Linked DNA regions of Homo sapiens: region 2 is linked to region 1. Evidence: fine-mapped expression QTL. A gene starts in region 1. The other region holds a variant in brackets. All regions are shown on one strand. Distances are from middle to middle. Region 1 holds the start of TARBP2 (TARBP2 subunit of RISC loading complex). Region 2 holds the start of PCBP2-OT1 (PCBP2 overlapping transcript 1).

Region 1 (8,610 bases):
TGAAGAAACCAAAGGGCAAGGGCTCTATCCTGAATGATCTTTAGCCTCCTCTGGAATCTGGTCACTGTCACAGTCTCCTCACCTTCTCCACGCACACATATGACCCCAGTCCTTCTGGGAGCCAATGAACCAGACAGACCAGTCTCTGTGGCCAGGCCCTCATGAAGCCCCTATGTCCCCTGCTGGCATCATCTCAACAGTATCCTCCTTCTTCCCAGCATCACCTCAGTCAACAGTGTGAGTGAATGCATGAGTGGCTGGCGTGAGGGGCAGACATTTCCACCTCACTGGAAGAAGCATGGCAGCTGGGGGTCCCAGGGCTTGACTGGTGTAGGGCTGAGGACCTGAATGTAGGGGTGATCTCCAGTCCACCCTAGCAAGGACTTCTTACAGGGTTGATTCCTTCTTTCTCTCCAGATCCAGGCAGGGGAGAGGGAGGACTGTGCATTACGAGAGTCCGGGCTGTGAGTGGTAGAACCAAGAGTCCTCTTCCTAGAAAAGCCTGATCCTACCACAGTGTCACCACGAGGGGAAAAGCAATTGGTTTTTAGAAGGGTTCTGCCCTCTTCAGCTATAAGGAAGCCTAGGAAATCCTGAGCCATGTCTAACTTCTTGCCTCCTCTGTCCATAACTGGGATGGATATTTAGCTGGTGTCTCCATGTTGAGAGCTGGGGTTTTCCTAACATTACCCCAGTTGACAATGGGAGTGAGTGGATGAATGATACGCTTGAGGGGACACACTTTTTTTCACCTGTAAGTGTGAGATAGGAGGGAGTGGGGCCCTAAAGCTCAGAGAAACTTCAGTGTCTGGACAGGAAGGCTCAGGGGGCACTTGAGTCCTATCCTTCCTAAATCCTTTCTGTTAGCCTTAGCTTGGTAGGACCCTCTGGCTGAAACTCAGAGCTCCTAGAGCAATGGAGTCCACCTTGAGAACTGCAAGGGAAATGTGTTTAGAGGGATGCACTGACTGTGGCTTGAGACGACTCTGGGTGGGGTGAGGAGACCTCATGTGCACTCCCTTCTGATTGGAGGCCACTCACCTACGCTCCTCTGAAAAAGGCAGCAGATGAGCATCTACAAGGTAGGACTCCTCCCTTAATTCTAAGGGACACCTCACTGTTTCCTCCCACTGTCTACAGAGCCTTGACTCTTCCCTCCTCTCAGTCAAGGCCTTGGTTACCAGCAAGTCTCAACTCTTGTTTATTTTTAAGCCAATGAGTTTGAGGAGTGTTTGTGGGAAAGGGAGGAGGTTTTTGGAGGGCCTGACTGGGGGAGATGGGTTAGGGGAGCCAGAGGAGATGGAGAGAAAGAGGAGGGAGAAACCCACACGTGAATGGGGGAGGGGAGGATGCAACAGCTGGATGGAGGTGAATGCCACAGCTGGAGGTGAATGCCACAGCTGGAGGGGATTAGGAGGATCACAGCTTGAAGGGGAGGGGGACCAACGCCTGGGCATGCAGGAACAGGTGCTCTCTGACTAATCTTCAGGTCCAGCCTGCTGTGTGTGTGTGTGTGTGTGTGTGTGTGTGTGTGTGTGTGTGTGTGTGTGTGTGTGTGTGTGTGTGTGTGTGTGTGTGTGTGTGTGTGTGTGTGTGGAGATGGTGGGTATATCAGTCCTTGCCCTTCCTTTCCTTCCCTAGAGGGGGCCAAAACTCTCCCTCCTCCTTCCCTCTCTCTCTTCCTGAGGATGAGTGGGAGGAGATGTTCTCTTGCCCTCTGTCCTTTAAGTCTGTCCCCCAATCATCCTCCACCCCACCCCAATACGGTCCTTTCCAGCTCTGGAGGCCCTTCGTCTCCAAGCTGGGCCGCGGCATCCCTCCGCTCCATTCCCTTCCTTCCCAGCCCCACAGGCGTCGGGTCCAGGTCCCCAGTTCCTCCATCCCCACAGCCTCAGCATCCCCACGCCATCACCCCGCACCAGGCCACATCTGCATCCCGACCCTCCCTCCACGCCCGGATCCCAGGACCCAGACCCATCCCTGCCCCCCACCCCCCCACAACTCGGCCAGGCTCTCACCTCGGGGGCTCCGCGGCCGCAGCACAAAAGGCGGCGCTGCTGCAGCTCCGCTCCGGATGCTGCTCCCGCCTCCTCCTCCTTCTCCTCCTCCTTCCCTCCTCCCCCCGCTGCCCTCCACCGGACCCGGGGCGCTGTCACAGGCGATGCTCGTGCGGTGTCCGGATGCACGGGTGTCAGCTTCAGCTTTCTGCCCCCACCCCCCGACCCCTAGCCCCGTCCCTGCTCGGCTTGAACTCCCGCTCCTTCCAGGGCCCCCGCCCCTGGCCCCCCGGGACGGACACGCCCTGAGCGGGGGATGCTGCGATGGAGCCGCCGGCCTCTTAAAGGAGCCCGCTGCTGCCATCCGGCGCGCTCCAGGCTCGTACCTGGCCCGCCTGGGCCCCGCGCCTCCCTGCTGGCGGTGTCCTATGGAGGTCCCACCTCAGGCCTCAGGCTGATTCCACAGGAACCCCCTATGACCCGTCTTATAGACTCCTTTCTACATCGGAGAGAGCAGCCCCTCAGTTGGGATCCCTAGCGCTCTGGCATTGCTCCCCCTATCATACCGATCTTGCCAGCTCTCCTTCCCTTGATTGTCACCACTCACTCCAATTTCACCCACTTGGAATTCACTCGGCTCTAGGCCCCATCCTCCTCCAGTGTTCCTGGATGACCCCTCATTATCATTTCAAGATTCCTCTGGACCTCCAACCCCGGCTCAGAGTAAGACATCTTTCTTGACCCCTTCTCAGAACACTCATTAGAACCTTTTTTTTTTTTAATGTGGTCTCTCCCTTTCTCTCTCCAAGGTCACAAGATTTCCCTCAGCCCAGTGGTTGTGCAACTTTGGGGGAGGAGGCAATGGGGCTCTAGGACTAAACAATGCGCGTCTGCTCAACACCCAGATCAGTTGATTAATCTTAGGCGGCCAAAATTCACTTTTGCTCTCTTCAGCTGAGAGACCCAAGACTCATGGAAGAGGGAACAAGACCACCAAGGTGCCTAGTCCTTCTAATCCTGTCGTCCCACATTACAGCCTGATTATCAGGCCCCAGAGGTTTCCTCGCCAGTTAAAGAGAGGTTCACTAGAGCGGTTCTAAAAAGGTTTCACAAAAGAAGCAACACCTGAAGGGAGGTGAAGGACGACCTAGGAAAAGGAAGCAAGTTCTGTGTCACGGAGGCCCAAGGGCAAGGGGCTTAGGCTGTGGGTTGAGGGGACTGTCTGAGACGGACTTAAACCTGCACCAGCTCCAGAGCCCTGCGGAAACAGAGATCGGTCCCCTCCGGCGTCTAGGTAAGGCCCACCCTCCCAGACCGCAAAGAGCCAGGATCCGACGGCAGCCTCTCCGGACCAATCACAACCTTCCTTCATCAAGGAGGCGGGGTCGGGGGGGGCTGACTTTTCCTTGTCTCCGCCCCTTTAGTCGAAGTAACCAATCTCAGTGCACCTAGGGGAAGTAATCGCAATGGGAGTAACCAATGACGCCATGAAGCTTCTCGTGCGTGCTTGACCCTGCCTCTCCAGCTGCGACACAGATGGCGCGCGGGCTCTTGGGTTCTGTAGTTTTCTCGCGATCCAAAAGGCTCCGTGCCCAAGTGAGTCCTTACCGCCTCCCTACCCAGCGGCTTCCCCTCCGCTAGTACGCATGTCCACAGCTTCACGGACCGGGAGAGAGGGGGCGCGGAAGGAAGGAGGCGGGACGGTATTACAAACAAAAAAATACGGCCTTCTCGAGAAGCGACGGCGGAGGGCCCGCTCCTCCCAGAAGGCGGTGCAGCCTGCCCGGGCGAGCCACGCACGCAGAGGGTTGTGGGGCGGATAGCTCCCCTCCAGATGGAGGCTCACGAAGTAGGGTGGGCGGGGGACTCCATATCCCAGCGTGCCCCGCGGCGGGCCCTACCGGCCGCGACTCCGGGCTTGGCCCCGGCCCTAGCTCGTCGGCTGTGTATTGGGGCGCGTGGAGGCTGCAGTCACGGTGGCGCCCGCGGGGACGGAGGAGGGAATGAGTGAAGAGGAGCAAGGCTCCGGCACTACCACGGGCTGCGGGCTGCCTAGGTGAGCCGTCTCGTACCGATTCCTTCAGGGCGAAAAGCGTGGGGCCGTGCGGAGGGAGTAGCGGCGCGGCCCCAGCATGCACCTGGCCTGAGGGTTGTTCCCGGCAAGCACTGGGGCAGTGGGCAGTGGTTCCCGGCGTGCACCGGGGCAGTGGCTGCTGCCTCCAGCTCTAAATAGTTTGGGGTTGGCCCGGTTCCCAGACTGCACTGGAACACTGGGCTTTATGCCCCCACATTCAGTGCATTTGGTGGGTACTGGGTTCCTGGCTTGCACTGTGTCAGGGGGTATGCACTTTCAACCTGCATTGGGGCACAGGATCGTGCCCACCTTAACTGAGGCAGGAGCAATGCATTCTTCCCCCCTTGCTTTGGGGTAGTGGGCCCTACTTTTCCAGCCTGCACCTCCACTTGGAACCCAGCCAATGGATGCTAGACTGTCTGGGGTTCCTTGGACCCTATGTCCCCCATAATGTGCCTAGGTCTGGTATGGAAGTGCTTGGCTAGGTGGGTGCAGAGAGGGGAGGTGTGATGTGGGTCTGTGCCCCTTCCCCCAGTATAGAGCAAATGCTGGCCGCCAACCCAGGCAAGACCCCGATCAGCCTTCTGCAGGAGTATGGGACCAGAATAGGGAAGACGCCTGTGTACGACCTTCTCAAAGCCGAGGGCCAAGCCCACCAGCCTAATTTCACCTTCCGGGTCACCGTTGGCGACACCAGCTGCACTGGTGAGGAAGGCTTGGGCAGCCTGGCTGGGGTGTGCATTTGCAGGTCCCCATGGCTTTGTTTCTTGGAGTCTCTCTCTTCACAGTCCTTTTCTCCAAGGCCAGTGAGGGAAGGAGAGATTTCAGGGGAAAAGCTACTGACTGGATTGGGAGAACAGGGCTGTAAGAAGGTGGGTAGGACGTGGGAGAGTTAGAGGAGCGAGCAGGACTCCCACAGTGATCTGGCAGATCCCCATCACCCTAGAGGAAAAGTAAGAGAAGATAACTGAAATCCCAGTGGAGTATTTGGGGGAGTGAGTGCCTGGCGTGCTGGGCTCTGTTCCCGGTGCTTAACCAAATTCCCGTTTAATTTTAAACCTCAGTCTAACCAATGATTGTAGGTGGTAGTATCCGCCCCCCCGACTCCTCCCCCCGCCCGCCCATGTTGAATATGAGGAAACTGAGTGTTTGAGATAGTAAATGGCTGGTGCATGGTCACATGCCTAGTATGTGGCAGAGTGGGGCTTTTACTCCAGAGCCTACCCTCTCTTATTCCAGCTCTCTGTATTTATTGAGGGAAAAGAAAGTGCTTTGCAAAGGAAATTAAAGCATTTGCGCTCAGAAGTCCACCCAAGGCGTTTGAGCTCAGAAGTCCTGCTTGGCATGGCTTAATTCTGGAAGCTAACGGAAAGATAAGGGCTCTTCCTTCCAGCAATTAGTGAAACACTTCCAGTCTTCAGCAGGGGGAGGTTGGTCAGAAGGGGCTTGATTGATTCCCTCTGGCTACGAGGAGAGAGGCTGTGGGATGCTGGTTTCTTTCCCGTCCTTTCAGTGACCTCCAGTATTGCCCATGCCCCCTCTCTCAGGTCAGGGCCCCAGCAAGAAGGCAGCCAAGCACAAGGCAGCTGAGGTGGCCCTCAAACACCTCAAAGGGGGGAGCATGCTGGAGCCGGCCCTGGAGGACAGCAGGTGAGGGAGGAACCGAGGCATCCCAGAAGCCCTTCAAGGAACCCAGGCCCTGCACCACCCACTCTGCCCCGAGGCCTGGCCAGGTGACACTTAGCCACCCTGACCTGGCCTCTTCCTGAGAGTCCCTCTGGACCTGAACAGGGTTTTCCAGGGCTTCTGCTGCTATGAAGAATTCTTGGGGTGGAGGGGTTGGTTAGCCCCATAGAGGGGTTGTGGCAGTAGGTTGGGGCCTGGGTTAGGGAGGGAGAGGGGTAGAGGCTTGAGGCTAAAGGGAGTTACTCCCCAACATACCTCCTTGTTCTAGCAAGATGTCCTTCCTTCACGCGCAGGTTGGAGTTTGTTGCTCCTCTGGTTCTTGGGTACAAAGATACCCTCTTCTCTGAGACTCTCTTTTCTCAGTCTTTTCGCCGGTGTTTGGCAGCAAAGGATCCGAGGAGGAAGCTGTTGGTTGAGCCTCCCTGATTCTTTGGCTCAATTTGGAAGTTCTCTTAGGGGATTGGGAGGTCAGGAGGACGTGGGTCCCCCACCCCTCTCTTCCCCCTATACATGGGTGTGAATCAAAGGCCCCCTTCCCCTCGGGAAGTTCTTTTTCTCCCCTAGACTCTTCACTGCCTGAGGACATTCCGGTTTTTACTGCTGCAGCAGCTGCTACCCCAGTTCCATCTGTAGTCCTAACCAGGTATCTGTGTCCCCTGACTGCCTGAGGTGGGTGGAGGAAGGGGTTCTGGTTTTTGGTCCCTCAGTCCTTGGACCCAAGCTGGTCAGGCATGAGGAAGTCTGAGAATAAACAGAATGGAATAGTTGGGAACCAGAACTTGAAGAAATCACAGCAGCTGGTAAGCTCTTGGGACAAGAGGTCATTTGTGATTTTCAGACAGCCTTATGAATGATGTCCGACCATGTTTAAGGGTCTTGCAGGCCCCATTTTCTTCTGGGTTGACCACATGTCAGTTCTGTGTTTGAGGCCCATCAGGCACTTCTGGGACTGGAAATACAGCTCTTCTCCCACTGTCCTGGCTTAGATGATACCCAAGTGTTCCAGAATGGAAATGGGCTGGGGCCTGGAGAAGGCCTCCCTTGAGTGGGAGGGGGAAGGAAGCCGGCTAGAGCAGGAGGAGCAGGCTAGATGTGTGGACAGACAGCTCCCCACCCGGTGGAATCGGGAGATGGTAGTCAGGAATCTAAAGTAGTGGTTAGGTTTGGAGCTCATGGGCAGGCTCAGATGGAACCCTTCACCTCAACTTTGGCCCTGTGCCTTTTCCTTCAGGAGCCCCCCCATGGAACTGCAGCCCCCTGTCTCCCCTCAGCAGTCTGAGTGCAACCCCGTTGGTGCTCTGCAGGTGTGTCCCATCCTCATTTCCCATGCATGCCTGTCTTCCCTTGAGCCAGGGGCCATGAGGGAAGGCTATGTGTGTTTGGGGGTGGGGGCGGTTCCTTGTACTGAGGCCCTTTCCACCCCCCTCTCTCCTTCCTCTCACCTAGAGTCTGAGGCTCCTGCGTGGGGACCAGCGTGGGTGTGAGAAGCCTTTTTTCACTCAGCCTCATGCACCCTGTGTCTCCCTTCCAAGGAGCTGGTGGTGCAGAAAGGCTGGCGGTTGCCGGAGTACACAGTGACCCAGGAGTCTGGGCCAGCCCACCGCAAAGAATTCACCATGACCTGTCGAGTGGAGCGTTTCATTGAGATTGGTAACTGGGCAAGAAGGGGTTCTCACAACTCCTCTCCCGCAGCACTCTGGCCCCAGCCACAAAGCAGCTCCTGGCCTCACTCTGCTACACCCCCTGCTCTCTTAGCTTCACAGTCCCTAGCTCAGCCCCTTCCTTTTAGCTTCTTGGCACCCTATTTGTCCCCTTCTCTCTGGCTGACCAGGTTCTCACGTGCATGGGCAGGTCTTGAGTTCCCCTTTCCAGTTGACATTCTGGGGGGACCCTCAATCCAAGTATGACCTGGGTGGAAGCACTGGGTCTGTGGGGAATCATAACCCAGCAGCCCTCTCTCCACATGCAGGGAGTGGCACTTCCAAAAAATTGGCAAAGCGGAATGCGGCGGCCAAAATGCTGCTTCGAGTGCACACGGTGCCTCTGGATGCCCGGGATGGCAATGAGGTGGAGCCTGATGATGACCACTTCTCCATTGTGAGTGGCTCATGTGGGCCGGGCACCGTGGCCCATCCTCCATGCCAGGGCAGGGCTCCAGGGACTTGGGTCTGTGACTCAGCAGTGAGCCTCTCTGGGCCCTAGGTCTGCTTCTGCCACAGTTTTCCTACCAGACCCAGGGTTCCTGGGGCCGACTCAGCCTTGACTGTAGGCCCGCTCTGTAGCTCTGTTACTGGGGTGAGGAGGGATCCCTGGCCATCTGGCCCAGGGCCTGGTAGTTAGAAGGGGCCACCCAGGGATTGACTGGGGGGAGGCAAGCTGGAGGAAGCATTCTTTGTGCTTTGTTCTCCTTTGACGTTGAATGTCTCAATGCCTGGGTCCCACAGTCTCTCGCTTCATCTTTCTCACTGTTCCCATCTTGACAGGGTGTGGGCTCCCGCCTGGATGGTCTTCGAAACCGGGGCCCAGGTTGCACCTGGGATTCTCTACGAAATTCAGTAGGAGAGAAGATCCTGTCCCTCCGCAGTTGCTCCCTGGGCTCCCTGGGTGCCCTGGGCCCTGCCTGCTGCCGTGTCCTCAGTGAGCTCTCTGAGGAGCAGGCCTTTCACGTCAGCTACCTGGATATTGGTATGGCTAGCTGGGGAGCGAGCCAGGGGATGGTGGGGGCTGGACCGGAGCAAGTAGAAGGGGGTGATGATAACGTGAACGCACCCCTCCCCAGGGCTACCTCCCCCAACATTGCCTCCCTCCTCTCTCTTGCTCTCCAGAGGAGCTGAGCCTGAGTGGACTCTGCCA
Region 2 (8,000 bases), 38 kb before region 1:
CGATCCTCTCATCTCAGCCTCCCAAGGAGCCGGGACTGCAGGCTCCCACCACCACACCCAAATTTTTGTATTTTTTTGTAAAAATGGTGTTTTGCCATGTGGCCCAGGCTGGTTTCGAACTCCTGAGCTCAAGCAATCCACCCACCTCAGGCTCCCAGTGTTATTACTACAGGCTTGAGCCAGCACACTTGCTTGCCTGCAGCGTCATTTTTCTTGACCAGACTTATAAACAACAAGGAGAAAAATAGGAAGATGTATTGGGAAATAGATGTAATTCTACATCTTTTTTTTTTTTTTTGAGACAGGGTCTCACTCAGGCTGAAGTGCAGGGCATAATCGTGATCATGGCTTACTGCAACCTCGACTTCTGGGCTCATGTAACCCTCCTACCTCAAGCCTCCTGAGTACCTGGTACCATAGGCGCGCTCCACAATGCCCGGCTAATTTTTCTTCTTTCTGTTGTTGTAGAGACGAGTCTCACTGTTTTGCTCAGGCTGGTCTCCAACTCCTGAGCTTCCGATGATTCGACTGCCTTGGTCTCCCAAAGTGCTCGGATTACAGATGTGAGCCACTGTGCCTGGCCCCTACTTCCTGTTTAACTATGGAAGTTACGTTGAATTATGGAAGATTTTAATTGTATCTAGATGTTACTGAATTTGGTGTTGGAATGAAACTCGAATGGCTGCTTGAGTTTTTGGGAGCGTATCGTACATGGCACGACAGAGATCTTAATTTTGTTAATTGCTATATTCGAAGCACTTCTCATGGTACCTGGCACATAGAATGGCCTTGATGTAAATATTTTTTCAGTAACATAATGAAAGGTGGGTGATACTTGTGGGGCTTTTGCTTCGCCCAGAGAACTATCATTAGTTGAAAGGCAACTATTTAGAAGGACCTTTTGCTTGAGAGTAGGTTAAATTTAGGCTGTTATTCACGCTTATTCTTGTCTTTCAGTGGCTAATTTATTTTTAACTCTAATTCACTAAACAGTCCTATCTGGAATAAGGGAAGAGTGGGACAAAGAACAAAAAGGGAAGATTGGAAATGGATAAATATCTACTAGAGTTTTAGGCTCTGAAATTGCTGCTGGAGGAATTGGAAGAGCATGAACTGTTTTTCTCTGATTTTGAATTTCTTTTTACTCCAAAGAGTACAGGGGCTCAGGTCCAGGTGGCAGGGGATATGCTACCCAACTCAACTGAGCGGGCCATCACTATTGCTGGCATTCCACAATCCATCATTGAGTGTGTCAAACAGATCTGCGTGGTCATGTTGGAGGTAAGCCCTCAGGCTCATGCTGAAAATGGGGGGAGGGCCATTCTGGGGACAGAGGGACTGATCTATATTTAGTAAGACTAGAATTAAGTGAGGCTGTTAAGGCTTCCAGTGGGGGTGGGGCTAAAAGGTTCCCTGAGTTCATATTTTCCTTCCCCTAGCTTTGACTTTTCTTATGGTCTGTGAGCAAAAATAGAAACTGCTAAGCAGCAGTGATCTTTTGGTTCACAGCAGTTGTAGCAGAGTCGGGGAGAAGATGCACTGCATGGACTAAGGAGGCCAGAGATTTATTTGAGTTCCTGAGTAGCTGAGTTAAATTACTTTTTGAATTACTGTATTTTGGTTACATGGAAATTTGACATGTTCTTTAACAACTTGTCACTTTGTAGGAGGGTATTCAAAGTGTTACATAGAGTAGAAAAATGTATGTATGATGATGTTTCCGAATGACTTACAAGGTCCTGATTATACACTATTATTCTATTAAAAGAATAGCAAAATTCAGGAAAATTAAGCCTTTTCAGATTTGTGATATGGAGTTGGTTTCATTGGTGAGAAATGAAACGAATTTTTTCGTGTGTGTGTGTGTGTGACGGGTTCACTTTGTCACCCAGACTGGAGTGCAGTGGTGCAGTATCGGCTCACTGCAACCTCTGCCTATCAGGCTTAAGCGATCCTCTCACCTGTCTCCCCAGTAGCTTGGTCTACAGGCATGCGCCACCACACCTGGCTAATTTTTTTTATTTTTTGTAGAGACGGGATTTTGCCATGTTGCCCAGGCTGGTCTTGAACTCCTGAGCTCAAGCCATCCACCCGCCTCAGCCTTCCAAAGTACTGGTATTACCAGCATGAGCCGATGCACCCAACCTGGAAACTGGAATTTTCAAGTAGAGATTAGAAAAACCTTGATTGAGCCTTTGAACTATTTATAGATAGTGTCTGTATTATTCTAGACATAACACTTGAGTACTTTATTTGCAGTTTTGACCTTATTTCCTATTCAGGCCAAAAAAATGTGAGATACTAAAAATTATCAACAAAAATATACGTTTAACAGTTTTTCATGTCCATTAAATTTATCTAAAATTTTGGAAATAGTGCCGAAGATTATTACATGGACATCTCCCTTGATGAGAATCAGTTTGAATTGTGTAGTCCTTGGACTTACTGCATTAAAGGCAAATAACTTTCAGTAGATAAATTGAGATTAGATCTAGCCAGAGACAATTTGGTAGGTAAGGGGATGGAAATAGTTTTTAATTTAACTGACCTGTGTGAGCTAAAGCCACACAGCTGAAGCAGCTTTGAAACCTTATCTCTTTTTGTTTTTTTCCCCTCTGACTCTCTCCCAGTCCCCCCCGAAGGGCGTGACCATCCCGTACCGGCCCAAGCCGTCCAGCTCTCCGGTCATCTTTGCAGGTGGTCAGGTAAGAAAATTCTCATTTGTGGGCTAGAATGAACAGAGATTATATTTGAAATGTCAACTTTGCCAGCATCACACCAAGCCACTCTGCATGCTTGCTGAAACCTATACTCTGGCCATAGTTTGACCGGCTTTTAGTTTTATTTTTGTACTGGAGAAAGCTGAATGCCTTAATTTTTAGCAGGCAATGGAAGTTTTGTAGGCACTCGGAAGAGGTAACTTACTTGTGGGTTGGGTTAGAATATAAGAGTTGAATTGACTTACTGTCTCTACTTCTCTCCCTGTCCCCACCCCATCCATGTTTTATGTGTGTGGGGTGATATTTAGAGGTCTAAATAAAAGGTAGCAAAGAGTTGGACCTCTGAAGGAGATTCTGGATGGTGGTCTCAAAATTTGGGGGTCCTGAATTTGAGTGTCCTACAAACTTCCCCTTCCCTCCACCTCACCTCCCCTACTCCTACCCCTTCACTCCCAAACTCCAGTGTGTTGTCCCCTAGGCTCTTAACCTCATAAACACTGGTTTGAACCCACATGGCATAACTGAAATCAGCTGGGGTAAGAGTTCAGTGTGCAAGAATAGAAGGGGGGTGAGCATGTTGGGCTGTGGTGCCGTGACCTTTGGTGTTAGAGTAAGAACACCAAAGCACCACCGTGGCCTCTCTGCTCCTTCCTCATCAACCTAAACTCTTGATCTTTGGCACGTGGACTATTCTGAAGTTAGATTATTATGACAGAAGCATTGAAGGACCATGGTAGTCCTATGCTCTGATTGTATTTGAGGAGTAGGTAGATCAGGTTTTAAAATACAGTTGGCCCTTTGTGGGTTCCACCTTCAACCTACCTCAGATCAAAAGTATTCAGGGAAAAAAATGGGTGGTTGTATCTGTACTGAACATGTACAGGCTTTGTTTTGTCATTAAACAATAGAGTATAACAAGTATTTACATAGTATTTACATTGTATTAGGTATTATAAGTAA[C/T]CTAGAGATGATTAAAATATGTGGGAGGATATGCTTAGGTTATATGCAAGTACTATACCATTTTATGTAAAAGACTTGAATATCCATGGATATTTGTTTCTATGGGGGGAATCCTAGGACTAATCTCCCACCAATAACGTAGGGACACCTAGGGACAACTGCATTGGGATTCAGGTTGAAATAGTGACTGATTTTGGTAGCTGCCTAAGCAAGTGCGTTGCTCAAAACACCTTTTCCCACTTGGGGCTGGTCTGTTACAAGCATATTTAGTTAACTAGTTCCATCTTACCTGCGTTTGATCTGGGAGCCATTTAGAGGGCAAGCATAAACTTGGGAGTCCATCTCTTTCACATTGTGTTGAATTGGCATAAAAATGAACAAGTTTTTAGAGGTTTAGTTTGTCGTGTAGTTATGAGAGGTTTCACAGGAAGGTCGGTTATGTCACAGTGTTAACCTTGAGTCAGTTTAGTACCTTGCTTTTAGAAAAGTACAAACTGGTTTGTTCAAAGGGCTCTCAGTCTAGTTAGTCAGAGTTGGGCAGGATAAGCAAAGGCCCAGAGTCAGTGTCGCCAGAAGGATTTAGCCTTAGGAGTTTTTCTTTCCCAGGAACTCCAGGTTCCTGCTCTTCTGGATTCTCCCACTCCCCCTTTGGAATAGAGTCCCATACTGGGTGGCAGCAATCCTCTGTACTTAAAATTCTTCCTTCACTTCCTTTTTTTTCCACTCCCCATCACACCTCCCCCTTCATACCTCTTTGCTTCCCTACCCACCCTCCCTCCCTCCCTCCCCTTTATTTAGTTGATGACCACCGTCTAAAAATTTGCAGCTTCTTCTATGAGTGGCCCTGTCATGGATTGTTCCCACAGGCCTTTTTAAATATACAATGTCCACAGATGGACCTGTGTCTTTTGTTCCTTTGTGGCAAAGTGGGCTCTGTAGGGGTTCAACTTAATCCCACACTGACCAGGAGCTGGCATCAGCTCTGTTGCCCCACCCCTTCATTCTTATTGAAAATAGCCCAATTGTGCAGTGTGAAATCTGCCACTAGGTAACTTTTTTTTTTAATTCACTGATTACAGCTCGTTTCAAATTGTGTCTGAGCTCCTTTTTAAAGGAAAAAGGAAAAAAATAAACAACTTTTTTTGTGTGAATTTCATGCTGGTGACAAGGTGCCGGATTGACAGCCCTGGAGACTGAAATCCTCTATTTATCCACAGGACAGGTACAGCACAGGCAGCGACAGTGCGAGCTTTCCCCACACCACCCCGTCCATGTGCCTCAACCCTGACCTGGAGGGACCACCTCTAGAGGTGAGAGGGGATGTTCAGTCTCCAAGGCTCACTCAATCCTTCCGCCTCAGCCGAGACTGCCAACACACGGGGGGCCAGTGGCGCTGGTGATTTTTGGTGCTGTGGACACCACCTGTCCACGGGGACCTGGACTGACCCCCCCAACCTCATTTCACCCAGGCCGCGTAGCCCACCAGATGGTAACACCAACTTTTTTTTTTTTTTTAATTTTTTTTTTGTTCAACCCCTCTTCCCCTCTCCCACTCCTCCCACCCCATTTTCACCTTCCTTCCACCCCCACCTGGGTGTACTTTTGGGGGTACTGGCCACTGTGATGTGAGAAACTTCACATCCTGTTAACCAGCCACTCCTTCCATCCCCTCCCTCCCTGTTCCCTTTTCCTTTCCTCCTTTTCCCTACCCCATTGCCCTGAAGACCCAGCTCCCTTTTTGGGAGGTTATGTTGTGGGGGGGAGGAGGGCATAGTGGGAGCTGCAAATGCCTATGGAGGGGAGGTGGGAGAAGACAGGAATTAGAACCCAGTGGTTTTTGTTTACCTGTGATCAGCTCCCTACTGTTAGGGACTCAGCTAGCATCCAGTGTTCTTAAGGTCTTTAGGCAGATAGAGAAATAAGTTGGAGAAAGGGAAGTGTTTTAAAACATACCATGTAGGTTTGTGCAGTTAGAGATCTTCCACATCACCACAATTGGTAGAAGGGTTGGGGTGGTGAGGGAAGAGATCATTATTCCTCCTAGGCTATCTTGTATACAGGGAGGAAGAGTGGGGCTTGGTCAGTCGAGGCATTGCTAATCTCACTTCCCACATTTTCATTAAGAAACAGTTATGTATATTTTGCCTTTGATTGCAGGGAACTTGGCTACCTTTATAGGATTCCCCGGAACAAAGTCATATTTAGGGTTCAAAGAAGGCCAATTTGGGTCTGACCATATTTGTGAGATTCCATCTACTGCCTCAATCTCTGGCCTCCCCCATTCTCTAGTTCAACTCTGGCTTCCTGGCTAGTTGAAATGTCTTTTTCCCCCCACTGGGTGGCTGTCCGTGATTGGTTTTTAATAGGAACTGTTTTCCTCCTTTTGTAGGCCTATACCATTCAAGGACAGTATGCCATTCCACAGCCAGATGTAAGTTTTGTTTTCACTTCTTGTTTTGAAAAGCTCCCTCTCCCATCCAAAATTGTCTCACTCCTCTCTCCCAAGTAGCCAGAAGTGAGTTGGGTCTTCAGCATTTGCAGTATTAAGTTGTTTTCTTCACAAGGTCAATCCCATATTTTAGCCCTTTAATCAGGGTAATGCCTTGTTTGCCTTTTAACATTTAACCCCTGAAATTTAATTCAGCACATTAGCTTCTCCTTTCCCCCTGTGTTTCAGATTACCCTGTTTCTAAAAGGGAAATGTTCCATGGTATACTGTGATTTGTTATCTCAGGGCATAGTTTAAATTGACATTGGGACTGTGCTTCCTTGCATGCAGTTCTCTTTTCCATGAGGGTAATGGGAGGTTGGGTTTGCCCTTGGGAACTCCTCAATCTGAGATGACAATTTGAAAAGTATTTGGAGGGATGGGGAAGGGGCTTATGTTACACAGAGAGGGATAGGAACCTGAACATTTCAGAATTCAACTCAAACCTTTCTTGCTGCTAAAACCTCCTATTTAAAAGTGCCGGTATTTAGACTTCAAGGGCATTTTTTTCTGCACTTTTCTTTTATCCTTACTAACCTTTTCAGGTGCTGAGCATTATTAGACTTGGGAAGTTGAGTTTCGGTCTTGGTTAGTGGTAGGCCCCAGGAGAGAGGGAAGTAGACGTGAAGAAGGATTATTTTATGACAGTCAGGACAGTTTATATAGATGAATAAAAATAGCTGTAGTAGTCAGTGGTGGCGGTGATGGGACTAAACCCAGTATGGTTTCTTCACCTCTCTCCTCCTTGCAGTCTCCCTGCCCCCCTCATCTCCTTCCCTCTCCCCAATACTGATGAAACCCTGCATGGTGTGTTTTCCCTAGCACCACTGCACAGTTTGTTTACCTAGCCTGTCTGTGCTTGTCCCTGCGGCAACTGTTGCAATGGCTGCAAACTACCTTCATTAAGTAGCCTCCAAGGGGGATGGTCGTTGGGCAAGTGCTGTTGCTTTTCTATTCCCACACCCAAAAGGCATTCATTCTCTTCCAGGCACCCATTCTATTTCTAACCCTTACCCTTCATATTCTGCCAATCCCCAGGATTGTGATGCAAGCCCCATCCCTACCCTCTGTTGTAGTTTGAGTAGTAGAGTCAATTTTGGGAATCAGGACCTGCATTTTCAAATTCGAATGTGCTTGAGCCCTGGCTCTGTTAAATCTTCTAATGCCAACCTCCTGTTTCCTCCTTGCAGTTGACCAAGCTGCACCAGTTGGCAATGCAACAGTCTCATTTTCCCATGACGCATGGCAACACCGGATTCAGTGGTATGGATACCTCAGTGTTTATTTCTGTAAGGTGTAGTGCAAGAGAGAGGCCAGTCCCAAGGTCTCAGCTTGACATCTGTTTAAAACAAACTTCGTTATCCAGCATCCTGCTGGTTTAAACTTGCCTGTCTACTATGGCTAAGCCCAAGGAGGTAATGTGTTTGTTAACGTGGTTTTCATTTGGGGTCAGTTATTCTAAAAGAAAAAAAAAGCCCTGGAAGGTTTGGGGGTGAGGTTTGGGGATGCTTGTCAGGCAAAGGGTAGGCTGATATTTCTTTGAGCCCATCCTGACTGCTGCCCCCTTGATCTGATCAGCACCCCCTTTCTCTCCACCAGCAATTCACAGGCTTGGGTAGAGACCATCCATTTGTGCCAAATTGTGTAGTGTTTTTTTTGTTTTTGTTTTTGTTTTTATTTTGTTTCGTTTTTGGGGCTTTTCTGTATAAGGAATAACTTGTCCGATAGGGTTAGGATGAGACCACCAAACTCATTTTCACTTGTATCTTAACAGGCATTGAATCCAGCTCTCCAGAGGTGAAAGGCTATTGGGGTAATGATTAAAAAAAAAA

The links. PIP is the estimated chance that this variant, and not a neighbour inherited with it, causes the effect. A credible set is the group of variants that fine-mapping cannot tell apart.
Region 2: its variant is the best candidate, but not a certain one, in a credible set for the expression of TARBP2 in esophagus mucosa (GTEx, PIP 0.90).

Annotation. Positions count from the first base shown.
Region 1 is chr12:53,497,409-53,506,018 of GRCh38, forward strand. TARBP2 (TARBP2 subunit of RISC loading complex) reads left to right here and starts at 3,875. Exons shown (of 9, transcript NM_134323.2): 1 at 3,875-4,053; 2 at 4,607-4,776; 3 at 5,619-5,721; 4 at 6,305-6,400; 5 at 6,989-7,061; 6 at 7,290-7,407; 7 at 7,727-7,854; 8 at 8,241-8,442; 9 at 8,583-8,610. The coding sequence starts at 4,001. It overlaps MAP3K12 (mitogen-activated protein kinase kinase kinase 12), which reads right to left and starts at 2,050. Exons shown (of 14, transcript NM_001193511.2): 1 at 2,019-2,050. RefSeq lists a silencer at 2,167-2,416 and an enhancer at 3,510-3,809.
Region 2 is chr12:53,459,863-53,467,862 of GRCh38, forward strand. PCBP2 (poly(rC) binding protein 2) reads left to right here. Exons shown (of 15, transcript NM_031989.5): 7 at 1,153-1,281; 8 at 2,631-2,705; 9 at 4,898-4,990; 10 at 6,070-6,111; 11 at 7,359-7,431; 12 at 7,943-7,981. It overlaps PCBP2-OT1 (PCBP2 overlapping transcript 1), which reads left to right and starts at 4,606. Exons shown (of 1, transcript NR_109828.1): 1 at 4,606-5,195. The variant C/T (reference allele first, on the strand shown) is at 3,681.